Linked DNA regions of Homo sapiens: region 1 is linked to region 2. Evidence: fine-mapped expression QTL. A gene starts in region 2. The other region holds a variant in brackets. All regions are shown on one strand. Distances are from middle to middle.

The links.
Region 1: its variant is fine-mapped to the expression of NEIL3 in monocytes (BLUEPRINT, PIP 0.95).

Annotation. Positions count from the first base shown.
Region 1 is chr4:177,347,539-177,350,459 of GRCh38, reverse strand. All of the region lies in intron 6 of NEIL3 (nei like DNA glycosylase 3), which reads right to left. The region is part of intron 2 of LOC105377558 (a long non-coding RNA gene); the gene reads left to right. Among named protein-coding and RNA genes, the nearest start is that of NEIL3, 39 kb to the right of the region's middle. The variant T/AT (reference allele first, on the strand shown) is at 1,426.
Region 2 is chr4:177,308,227-177,311,147 of GRCh38, reverse strand. NEIL3 (nei like DNA glycosylase 3) reads right to left here and starts at 1,274. Exons shown (of 10, transcript NM_018248.3): 1 at 1,039-1,274. The coding sequence starts at 1,194. RefSeq lists an enhancer at 1,104-1,193 and a silencer at 1,274-1,393.

The sequences.
Region 1 (2,921 bases), 39 kb before region 2:
TTGGCCACAAATATAAATCATGATTCTCCATCTGAAGTCCTTCATTGACCATGTATTTTTACACAAAATGCCTTTATACGGCTGTGACATAGTCCTACTCTCTAATGCACAGCTAGCTATAGGTCTGGATATAGAGCATGTCACACAGTTAAGCAACCATGGCAGTATCACGGATTCCCTTCATGATCCCAAACATTAATACTGAACAAAGCTCTTGCAGGTAAAGGCTATGTATCTTACATTTCAGAACATGAGTTCTTTGACTTTCAAAGGTAACCTTGTCTCCTGTGACATTTTGTTCCTTACATATAATTACACTAGTTTTAAAATTCAGGAGTGTCTGGTAAAATAATAAATAGAATAAGAAAATCTGAAAGTAAGATACATCTCATTAGGATTCTTTTATCTTTACTTCCCTTGACTTTTAATGCCACTCAGTATTTATTATCCCTATGGAATATCAGATCTTCTACAGAATTTGTTTATTTGACCTAATCTCTGTCCTCTACTAACTTACTTTGAAAGGCAGCATGATGCATTTATCTATAATTAAACAAACACAATTTAAATGACTTTTAGATTTTCCATGTGCTCCAACTTTTCCCTATTTTCATTTTCTTCTGTCCTAAAAGTTTCCCTGATCATAAGGAGAATTTTATTGTTACATATGGAGGCTTTGGAAACATTCTTTCCTTTCTTTACTGCTCTATTTCTTAATCACTCATTAATAAATTCTTCCCAATCTCCACTTGGATGTGTAAGAAGAATCCCAAACTTAATGTTTTGTAGTAGGATGAATAATGGCCTCCCAAAGACATAGGGCACAATTCCAGGAATCTATAAATGTTACTTTATAAAGAAGGAGGGTTTGCAGATGTAATTAAGGATCTTGGCGTAGAGAGATTATTTTGGATTAGCTGATGGTCCCTTAACCCAATCACAAGTGTCTTTATAAGAGAGAGGGAGGGGGAGATTTGATACACACCAAAGAGAAGGCAAGGAGACCACAAAGGCAGAGGTTGCAGTGATGTAGCCACACATGAAAGAACGCTGGCAGCACCGGAAGCGAGAAGAGGAAAGGAATATGATTCCCCCCAGTTCCTCCAGAGGGAGCACAGTCCTACCCACACCTTAATTTTGGTTCAATGAAACTGATGTTGAGCTTTTAGCATCCAGCGTTTGAGTGAATGCATTTCTGTTGCTTTAAGCTACCAAGGTCATGATAATTTATGATGGCAGCCAGCGGAAATGAATACAGACAAAATTCATGACCCACGAGGCCGGGCGCGGTGGCTCACGCCTGTAATCCCAGCACTTTGGGAGGCCGAGACGTGTGGATCACAAGGTCAGGAGATCGAGACCATCCTGGCTAACACGGTGAAACCCCGTCTCTACTAAAAATACAAAAAAAAAAAAAAAAAAAAA[T/AT]TAGCCAGGTGTGGTGACGGGTGCCTGTAGTCCCAGCTACTCGGGAGGCTGAGGCAGGAGAATGGCGTGAACCCGGGAGGCGGAGCTTGAAGTGAGCCCAGATCACGCCACTGCACTCCAGCCTGGGTGACAGAGCGAGACTCCGTGTCAAAAAAAAAAAAAAAAAAAAAAAAAAATTCATGAGCCACCAATCTGCAATTCTACTATTCTATCTCATGTCAGGAAATGGCATCAGTATCGCTCAATTCATCAGGCCCAGACCTAGAAGTCATCCTTAACACTTCCTTTTCTCACATCCCACTTCCAGTCCATCAGCAAATCCCGTGGGATCTGCTGCAGATGCAAATTTACATGAAGCAAAAGAAGTTTAACTTTCCATGGCTTGACGTGTCCTCTGCACACTGGGGTGGGCAGCATGGAGAATGGGAGCCATAACTCGACCACATGCTGGGGACTCAGAGGATTGCAGGCAGCGGTAATCCTGGCGCCTGGGTGCTGCCAGCATCACCTCACATCTGTTCAGTGCCCAGGGAAACTATTGCCCTGGTGACCTCAAGGAGCAGGCGGACTCTGCCCTGAGGCTTGAGGAGAAGGACCTGAACAAAAGATACTGCATCGTTCCGAGCTCACAGGCCACCATGATCCAGGCTGCCAGGCCACTCTACCCCTATACTACCCACCCTAACTCAGAAACAACCTGGTAGAGGGGGGGAACCTGAGGCACCTGAGGAAGATCAAAGGGCTGGGGTTCTCAAAGTCAAGTCCTCAGGCCAGCAGCATGGGCGTCATGTGGGAACGTGTTAGACATGCAGATTCTCAGGCCCCTCCTCAGACCCACTGAATCCCCAGCTCTAGGGGTGGGGCCCGGCAATCTGTGTTTTCACAAGCCCTTCAGAAAATGCTGGTACACACTAAAGTTTGAGAGGCACTGCTCTTAGGGTTTCCTTACAGAGAAGTACTGCTTAAAGAAAAGATAGAGGAAGTTGGAGATGTGTCACTATCAACAGCCAATTGTGAAGCTAAAAGTTTTCTCATCTAGCCGTAATAAAAGATGTAATGATATTGTTGGTGGTCATATGAAAAGGCAATCAAGGAGTTTGCAGCCAAAAACATAAAGGAACACAATTACACAGCTGTGTCAGGCAGTGAACTAATAATATCTCATTTTTCTGATGTTTGTGGTGTTTAAAAAATATAATTTGTTGTGATTTCTTATTCTACATATTCACATTAGGACCTAACGTTGTAGTCATAATTTTTTATTGTTTTTCATAAATAAGGGCCCCCAAATTATATAAATTTCTGGCCTTAACCCTAACTCAACTTCCAAAATTATCCTAAATTCAACCTTTTTTTCCCACCACCTTCTCTCTCTTCCCCGTCACCAGCATTTACCACCTGCACTACTGTTGAGAGCCCCCGATGCTGCCGCTTCACTCTGGTTCCATGACCGTCTCTATTCCACACAGCAGCCCAAATCATCCTCAGAAAACCCA
Region 2 (2,921 bases):
ATTCTTAAGAAACCATCTAAAATCCATCTCTGTGGTACCCTGAAACGATTTTAGAAACACTATAACAATAATAAAAAAAAATAGGTACAGAGTACTTACTGGCATATCAAGTCAAAATAAACAAAAGGGCAATTGGAAGGAGATGTAAAACTTATTTTTTCCCAAGTTTGAAAATATATTTTCTTAGACTTAGAACCTCATTTCTTTCAAGTTGTAAGCATATGCTAATTTCATAGCAGGCAACTTTTTCTTCCAGGACCAAAGGCTATAAGAAGCTTTGCAGAAGAAATTGAAATACAGTGCAATATTGCATGTAGGCATGAAATACAATCATCCATACATCTAGAGGGCTTTTAAAACATGATGCCTTAATCAGAATATTTTTAGTACAAGTTCTGGCCAAATGAATACCACATCGTCTGCAATGAATGCCTGAGTGGCAAGAAGCTGTGCTAGTTTACTTTAAAAAGAAATAAATTCACTTAAGGGAACCAGAACTGGGTTTCATTGCCCCTTAATTAGATGGCAATATGAAGTTGAGTGAGAAGTTAGTGCTAAATTTTCTACGTGTAGTTTTAGAATTATATACTAGTTGTGATATACTTACCAATTGCAGATTAGCCAAGCAAGAAAGTAGAATTTTATGCTAAAAGCTTAAAATGGGACGAAGAAAACATATCAGAGGTAGCAGAGATTTGATAATATCAATAGTAAAAAATGCAGCTGTAGACATGGGAAACCATGTGTGTATCATAAAGAAGTTAAGTAAGGTGACTCGGATAAAACACCTTCACTGGATTCCCCTAGGGCATCTTGCTCCGGCAGCGTGAGCCCAGAACGCTAGCCCTCCTCTCCTGCGCAGGCGCGCTAGGACCGACTTCTCCCTACAGTAAAGTGACGATAAACTCTGTGAAAGGTGGGACCCCAGGAAACCTGGGCCAGAGCAAAGAGATGACACTTTAAATCCTGGAACCCTGATGGGGTCTTTATTCCATTTCCCCCCTGCTGACTGCATGGCCTGTTACAGGAGTAGCTCACCTGCGGGGAGACCACAACCGTGGAGGCTGCGAGCCGCAAGGCGCGGCCCTGCAGACTCCGCAGAGCGCTTCCCCGCACGCCGGTCACCGCCTGGCCCGGGAGCACCCGCGCGCGAATCTTCTCTCCATTCAGAGTACAGCCTGGTCCTTCCACCATCTCTGTGGCCGGCACTGTGGCCCACCGATTGCAGGGCCTGGTGAGAATACCGCTGTGCAACTCAACGCTGCGCGGGCACTGACCGCACGCAGAGGAAATTCAAATCTCGCGCGCGTCTGGCCCCGCCCAGGCCCCGCCCAAACAGCACCCTAGCTGTTGAGGTCGCTCCCTACGGCGCATGCGCTGTGGTTCACCCCCGCCCTAGGTCTTGCTGTGGGTTTATTAAGAAAACGCAAACGCGCGTGGGGCGGGGGGCGTGGAGGACAACTAACTAGGCTGAACTGTAAAAGCAGAAGAAATTGGGACTTGGAAAGCTCTGAATGTATTTTCTTTGCGTTAAAGTTTTGCCCTTGTCTTTGAGCTACTTAGTATACACACATTTTCTGATCTGGTCCTCTTAATCTGTCCTTGTCTGTGACAGGACAGATATGTCACAGACAATCTTGTTTTTGGCTCTGTTTTTGGCATGCTATATTCGGACGTGGGTGGGATAAGAGAAACGAAGAAGAGGGTTTTTGGAACAAACAGCAGAATATATTCTAGTGTCTATATTTAAAAACTCCATTATTAGATAGTTAAGTGAGCCCTACCTAAGTGCATGCATCCATTTTGTAAGGGGACGCCCCAAGATGAAAGCTATATGAAATTGCTTTGTTAAACGTAGAGGTTTATATAAATTTGAGGGTAATGCGTAGCTTTTCAAATTTACCCACAACCCTAACCAAAGATGCATGCATACATATAAATCTATGAAGTTTATGACTCCATATAGTTTTGTAAATTATAAAGTGTATTCTTTTTTGAAAACTGAAATACTACACATTAAAACAGAATGTCAATTTCTAAGTGATTTCATAAGCATAGCACTGTGCTGCCGTTAAACCACAAGAGCATATACACAGGTGGTTGCTGACTTAGGATGCCCCAGCGTAACAGTGTTTTGACTGTATGATGGTGCAAAAGTGACACACAGTAGAAACTGTACTTTGAGTACTCATATAGCCATTCTGTTTTTCATTTTCAGTACAGTAGTCAATAAATTATTCAACACTTTATTATAAAATATGCTTTGTGTTAGGTGATTTTTCCCAACTGTAGGCTAATGTAAGTGTTCTGAACACATTTAAGGAGGGCCTCGTGAAGCTATGATGTTTGGTAGGTTAGATATATTAAAGGCATTTTCGACTTACTGTATTTTCAGTTTACAACGGGTTTATCAGGACATAACCCCATCGTAAGTTGAGGAGCATCTGTATACTAGAGAGTTGAATTTGAATATACTGAAGACTTGATTGAAATTTTGAAAAGTATTAAATCTTTCCTTTGCAGGGAGAGATTAGTGATCAAAAGTTGGCTGGATCAATTTCAGGACTATTTGTACTTTACTCCCTTGTTCAATTCAATAATCTCTGTCCTTTGATGGAGAAAAGTCCTATATACCTTCTCCTCTTTCAGCGTTGTACTAGTTATTTATTGTTACCTCATCAATTATCCCATTTGTTATTTCAAAGTTTCTGTGGGTCAGGAATTTGGCAATAGTCTAGCTAGCCAGAGTCATCCTGGCTCAGCATTTCTCAAGAGGTTACAGTTAAAATATTAGCCAAGGCTAAAGTGCCCCAAAGGCTTTTTGTAGCTAAAAGATCCACTTCCGAGATGAGTCACTTGCATGGCTGTTGGCAGGAGGCCTCAGTTTCTCACCTCTTGTGTCTCTATAGTGCAGCTCGGCT